Linked DNA regions of Homo sapiens. The protein of the gene in region 1 purifies or fractionates together with the protein of each later gene. This does not show direct contact. Each region holds a gene or a part of one and is shown in the gene's direction. Other genes may lie near its edges.

The links. The genes of interacting proteins can lie anywhere in the genome.
Region 2: the proteins of TTC29 (region 1) and SUPT6H purify together in Homo sapiens (affinity purification with mass spectrometry; 3 studies listed by BioGRID and IntAct, with this or other methods). This does not show direct contact.

Annotation. Positions count from the first base shown.
Region 1 is NC_000004.12:146,935,865-146,939,364, reverse strand, and holds part of TTC29 (tetratricopeptide repeat protein 29), read left to right. Parts: intron 1-1,687; coding exon 1,688-1,771; intron 1,772-3,500. UniProt on the Homo sapiens protein: Axonemal protein which is implicated in axonemal and/or peri-axonemal structure assembly and regulates flagellum assembly and beating and therefore sperm motility.
Region 2 is NC_000017.11:28,689,705-28,693,204, forward strand, and holds part of SUPT6H (transcription elongation factor SPT6), read left to right. Parts: intron 1-377; coding exon 378-525; intron 526-1,216; coding exon 1,217-1,359; intron 1,360-3,500.

The DNA of each region.
Region 1 (3,500 bases):
TCGTGCCTCAGCCTCCTGAGTAGCTGGGACCACAGGCACGCAGCACTATGCCCAGCTAAGTTTTTGTATTTTTAGTAGAGACAGGATTCACCATGTTGGTCAGGCTGGTCTTGAACTCCTGGCCTCAAGTGATTCACCCGCCTTGGCCTCCCCAAATGCTGGGATTGTAGGGATGAGCCGCCATGCCCAGACTGAAAGGTGTAATGCTTTTAATCTACAAGGTCCCAAGGGCTGACTTCTGTTTTGGAAGAAGGAGGGTAGAGCCTTACTTGTAGGGTAGATTGGCAGGCAAGAATCAGCTCCTGAAATGATGCTGGGGCTTGAAAATGCATCATCAAACTGCTGCTGCCCATGAATGGCTGCTGAGCTACTCAAATTGTCACTGAGGAAATGCAGGACAGAGAAATTGATACATTTTGTCATAATTATCATATTAACTGATTGTGCTATTTTGAAATTGCCATTTGTAATTCTATTGACTTTTAGTAACATACATATTAGTTACCAATATAAATAGTTTGCATACGTAGGTTTATTTTCTTTATATGCCTACTTTTCCATTCCTGCAAGGCATAATGATCAAAGTATTAGGAGGTTTCTTTGTTCTCATGCCTCATTTTTAGTATTTCTAGGAAATACCAAAGCCCCTGGAACAAAATAAATACATTCAGCTAAACTAACATAAAAATTCTTTAAAAATAGTAAATCAAAATTTTCTTTTCCTATAGCGGAGAAATCTTTCAATGAATGCATAATTCATGTGTGTACACTATAATATATATACATACATATTTTTGTTTTACTTTTGAATAATGTAAAATATTTATGAAGTCTGAAAAAGCTTATTCTTTCTGTCTTTTTAAAGGATTTAATTTATATTTTGTTTTCAAGGTGAGCAAAAGCATAGCCAAATCTCATATCCTTAGGTTAGGATGAGTTTTAAAGAAAACGTTTTCTTGTATTCATTTTATTGAAGAAAAATATTTTTATCATACCCACAAAAGGCAAAGTTTGTATCAACATTCTTTAATAGCTTCTGAATAAAACACTGATATTTGTTTAGTTCCATATCAATCATCATAGTTATGAGAGGTTGATAGCATGCTTATTTTTAAAGGTGCAAAAGGGTGTGAAGAATGAACGCACTACAAGTATAATACATTTTCAATAAGGGCTTCTTAAAATCATTTTGCACCTTGAACCTTTAATAATTTGAGTTTTATGTGTGATTAAAAAAACTATTCAAAGAACATTTCAGGACAAAATTGAGTAATGTTTGGAATAAATTCACGTTACACATTTGAATCAAACAGGTGTTCTTGGCTCAGGATTCTGTGCCAAACAATATATAACTTCAGCAGTTGGAAAGTTACACCACGAAAAAATGTGAGCAAAATAGAAGGTCTTGTAAGCTTTGAGAAGACTCTTGAGTAGAAAGTGAATTATTTCAAGGTGTTGGTGTTTTATTTGTTTACACACTGGGTTTAATATTCTTCCTTATCATTTTCCATTCAGGAAAGATAAAATTTTGAAATGATCAACCAACGACCTAACTCTATAGCTATTGCGTTTATTACATATGGTATTATACCCTGAATATTTCTATTCTCCTGGTGGCATTTTATGTGTTTGGTAGCTTTTCAACTTGATAAGGCTGTGCTTTATTATTTCTTTCTATTTCATTTAGGTCTCAATTGATCAAAGAAAAAGATGACATAGATCATTATCTAGAGGTAAATTTCAAAGGATTATCAAAAGAGGAAGTTGCTGCGTAAGTACAACCTTTAAAGGTACTTTAATATAAAGTTTGTTTCTTTTGTCTTGATTCTTTATTGAAATTTCAATTTTCCTGTGTAATATACTTTTTCATTGGAACATGGCATTTAAAAATTAAAGCTCATATTAAATAGTGATAAGTCATGTCTATTGATCTCACACATATCAAAGTCTTTAATTTTATGGCTCTCAAAATTCCCATATTTACCAAGATATTATACTATCACATTTGCAATATTTAGTTAAGTCTGTGCTATTAATTGCTTGTTAACCTTCATTTTAAGGTGTGTTGTCTCCATGGGAAAGAAAAAAGCTTTAAGAAACAGATTTATATATCTTTTCTCCTGGTGATTAAAGAAAAAGAAACACCTTACTAATGTACTAATATGTCTCCTTTTCCACCCAAGCACTCACAAAAGAACCAATGGATCATACTTTATTGGTTAATTTTTAAATAATTCCAAATTGTCTAGATTTATTTTTTAGATGAACGATACAAACTTTGACATTTTATCACCAGTTAGAATCTAATTTATGGGATGAATAAAAGCAGTACAAAAATCAATGTAGGTTAGTGAGAAATGAATAGAAACTTAGAATAATAGCTAAACAAGTTTAATATTTCTTACCTATACTTAGTGGCTCTGTTATCACATCTTTTCATGTAAGTATTGAAAAATGGAAATCTTGTAAATTTACACGTATCTTATGGAATTCATTAATTGTTTCAATTAAAATATTTTATGCAACAAATGTTTGTAAAAGATTCTCTCTATTAATTTGTCTAATGCTGTGGGATTCTACTGAAAGGGTGTTGCTAATGATATTTTGGTGTAGGTTTGATATATTCTAAAGTTCTAAGTCTCTTGGTGTTTTCCATTTTATCAGATATTATCTTTGTCAATTTGCATATAACATGGAAAAACACAGTCATTTATTTTGTCAATAACTACTTTATAGAATGACAAAATTTTACAGTAGCTGTAATCACTCACTTCTGCAGAGCTCTATAGACTACCATGTATATGGTACGTGGGATTTTTGGCTAAATGCTATTCTGATGATTAATTATTTAACTTTCCGTGATAAACTGTTAGATAAAATTTAAGGCCAATATTGTATTATAGTACAACTACTTCTTAAAAGAAAAATATATGTATGCCGTATTTGGATTCTGATTTAAATATTATATCCAAATAGTTTTAATTGGCTTAATAATTGGAATTAAATTAAAAACTAAACATGCTACACATAATTTCAACAAACTAGAAGTCCATATACTAAAAGTCTACTGACATTTAAGTTTTCAGTGCAGGCTGAAGAAAAATTTTATCTAAGACAATGCAAAATAGGCTATAGTGATGAGTATTCTCTTAATATTATTTTTCCACTAAAGATACTGCCAAATTGATTTCAAATTCATCATTACACTATTGACAACAGTAACTCTGGGTAATTCTCAGGCCTTACTACAATATTCTCCTTAAAGTTTCCTGCACTTCAGTGCTTTCTTAGACCAAAGCTCTTTCTGTAAGATAGTGGATGCAAATCATTAGTATGGAGATAGCTTGTACACAGGTCATTATTATGCTTTTGATTGATACACATTCTAGACCTTGCCCTAGACAGACTAATTGAATAGCATAAAAAGGAGAAAATTGATGAATGATTTCAGCATCTCCCAGCAATGCCCAGCAGGTGCCATGAAGAATTATGCATAGTCT
Region 2 (3,500 bases), on another chromosome or scaffold:
GGGCTCCTCAAGGAAGTTTTTGGTCTGCTTGTTAAGGAGCCAGGGAAGTCTCAGAGATTGCCACCATAATTACAAGGGGCAGGAGGGAGTTGGGAGGATGTCAGTACTACAGTTTCCGTCTAGGCCCCCTTTCCTCCTTTCTAACAGCACAGCTTTGCATTTATCTGTGGACTCATTGGGGTTCCATAAAGCATTTTGATTACAGTGTTTCATGGCTAAGTTTGAAAACCACCTTTAGTAAATGTTGATGGAAAGAAAAGAAGAAGCCCTGACAGAAACTTACTCCCATCTGGAGAGGCCCGCCCCTTCCACGGGACTCCTTGAGGCTCAGGTTGGGGGGCAGCTGCAAGGCTCTTCTTGATGGGCTTCTTCCCCAGGGCTATGGTGACAAACACATCACACTCTATGACATCCGGGCAGAGCTGAGCTGTCGATATAAGGACCTCCGGACAGCCTACCGCTCTCCCAACACAGAGGAGATCTTCAATATGTTAACCAAAGAAACACCAGAGACCTTCTACATTGGTAAATTCTGGGGTCATTTTTTTATTGGGGGCAGGAGGTGTGTTTACTGTGTACATTCAAACCAAGCAGCAGTTCCAACAGATTGAGGCAGGTTTGTGTTGTACATGGGGAAGGCCAGGAGAGCATTTTAAAAGACTAAAGAGTCCTGGACTGGAAATCAAAACTGAATTTAAGGTCAAATGTGCTTCCAGTGTGCTATGGAATCTTCATGCAGTTAGTCTTCTTATAGGCTTTATTTTCCCCTATCATCAAATCAGGGGAACGGCCAGGCACAGTGGCTCATGCCTGTAATCCCAGCACTTTGGGAGGCCAGGGCAGGCAGACTGCTTGAGGCCAGGAGTTCGAGACCAGTCTGGGCAACATGGTGAAACCCCATCTCCACTAAAAATAAAAAATTAGCTGAGCGTGGTGGTGGGCACCTGTAATCCCAGCTACTCGGGAGGCTGAGGCAGGAGGATTCCTTGAACCTGGGAGGCAGAGGTTACAGTCAGCCAAGATAGCACCACTGCACTGCAGCCTGGGCAACAGAGCAAGACTTCATCTCAAAAATAAATAAATAAATAAAAATCGGGAAGAGTTCCCTCTTCAAGGATGGGAAGGAAGTCAGATATTCTGTCACTGAAAGGCTGGTGGAAAGAAGTGCTCTCCACATTCTCTGAGCCTGCTCCCCATCCTCTTTTCCTTCTTGCAGGAAAGCTCATCATCTGCAATGTCACTGGCATTGCCCACAGGCGTCCCCAGGGTGAGAGCTATGACCAGGCGATCCGCAATGATGAGACAGGGCTGTGGCAGTGCCCCTTCTGTCAGCAGGACAATTTCCCTGAACTAAGCGAGGTGTGTGCTGCAGCATTATCCTGCTCAGTGGATTTCCTTGGTTGAATGATCTCGGTGCCTAGAAGGGAATCAGAAATGAGGGTGTTCTAGATCATTCTCTCACCAAACAAGTACACAAAGAAGGAAGACGGACGGGAAACACACAGGTTTAGCATGAAGTCCCTTCTGAGAAGGCTGACATAGCTGGGCACGGTGGCTCACGCCTATAATCCTAGCACTTTGGGGGCCAAGGTGGGCGGTTCATCTGAGATCAGGGGTTCGAGACCAGCCTGGCCAAGATGGTGAACCCCCGTCTCTACTAAAAATACAAAAATTAGCCAGTTGTGGTGGCATACGCCTGTAATCCTAGCTACTCGAGAGGCTGAGGCAGGAGAATGACTTGAACCGAGGAGGCGGAGTTTGCAGTGAGCCGAGATCATACCACTGCACTGCAGCCTGGGTGACAGAATGAGACTTCATCTCAGAAAAGGAAAAAAAAAGGCTGACTTAGAAACTTCTTATGGTCGGCCGGGCGCAGTAGCTCACGCCTGTAATCCCAGCACTTTGGGAGGCCGAGGCGGGCGGATCATGAGGTCAGGAGATCGAGACCATCCTGGCTAACACGGTGAAACCCCGTCTCTACTAAAAATACAAAAAATTAGCCAGGCACGGTGGCGGCCACCTGTAGTCCCAGCCACTCAGGAGGCTGAGACAGGAGAATGGCGTGAACCCAGGAGATGGAGCTTGCAGTGAGCCAAGATAGCAGCATTGCACTCCAGCCTGGGCGAAAGAGCGAGACTCCGTCTCAAAAAAAAAAAAAAAGAAACTTCTTATGGTCGCTGGGTCAAAACAAAATGGCAGACAGGCATGGTGGCACGTACGTATAGTGCCAGCTACATCAGAGGCTAATTTGGGAGGATTTCTTGAGCCCAGGAGTTCGAGGCCAGCCTGGGCAACATAGCAAGACCCCATCTCCTTTTTTAAAAAAAGGGAGGGGCTGGCCGGGCGCGGTGGCTCACTCCTGTAATCCCAGCACTTTGGGAGGCTGAGGCGGGCGGATCATGAGGTCAGGAGATCGAGACCATCCTGGCTAACACGGTGAAACCCTGTCTCTACTAAACAATACAAAAAATTAGCCAGGCATGGTGGTGGGCGCCTGTAGTCCCAGCTACTCGGGAGGCTGAGGCAGGAGAATGGTGTGAACCCGGGAGGCGGAGCCTGCAGTGAGCCGAGATTGCACCACTGTACTCCAGCCTGGGCGACAGCGAGACTCTGTCTCAAAAAAAAAAAAAAAGTGGGGAGGGGCCAGGCCGGGCACAGTGGCTCATGCCTGTAATCCCAGTACTTTGGGAGGCTGAGGCAGTTGGATCACCTGAGGTCAGGAGTTCCAGACCAGCCTGACCAACATGATGAAACCCCATCTCTACTAAAAATATAAGGATTAGCAGGGTGTGGTGGTGAGACTCCTATCTCAAAAAAAAACACAAAAGGGAGGGGCCTCAGTTGCAGCTAAAGGGATCTAAGTTGGATAAACATAAAAGAGGATGGGGCACAGTCACACCAGTAATCCCAGCACTTTCAGGGGCCGAGGCAGGTGGAGTGCTTGCCCAGGAGTTCAAGACCAACCTGAGCAACATGGCAAAACCCTATCTCTACAAAATAAAATTAGCCAGGCTTAACCGGGTGCAGTGGCTCACGCCTATAATCCCAGCACTTTGGGAGGCCAAGGTAGGTGGATCACGAGGTCAGGAGATCGAGGCCATCCTGGCTAACACAGTGAAACCCCATCTCTACTAAAAATACAAAAAATTAGCTGGGCATGGTGGCGGGCGCTTGTAGTCCCAGCTACTCGGGAGGCAGAGGCAGGAGAATGGCGTGAACCCGGGAGGCAGAGCTTGCAGTGAGCCAAGATTGTGCCACTGCACTCCAGCCTGGGCAACAGAGCAAGACTCTGTCTCAAAAAAAAAAAAAAAAAAGATTACCCAGACTTGGGGGCGTGCGCTTATAGTCCCAGCTACTCGAGAGGCCAAGGTGGAAGGATCACTCGAGCCTGGGAGGTTGAGGCTGCAGTGAACCCTGATTGCACCACTACACTTCAGCCTAGGCAAAAGAGTGATACTGTCATAAGAAAAAGATGGCTAGGTGTGGTGGCTCACGCCTGT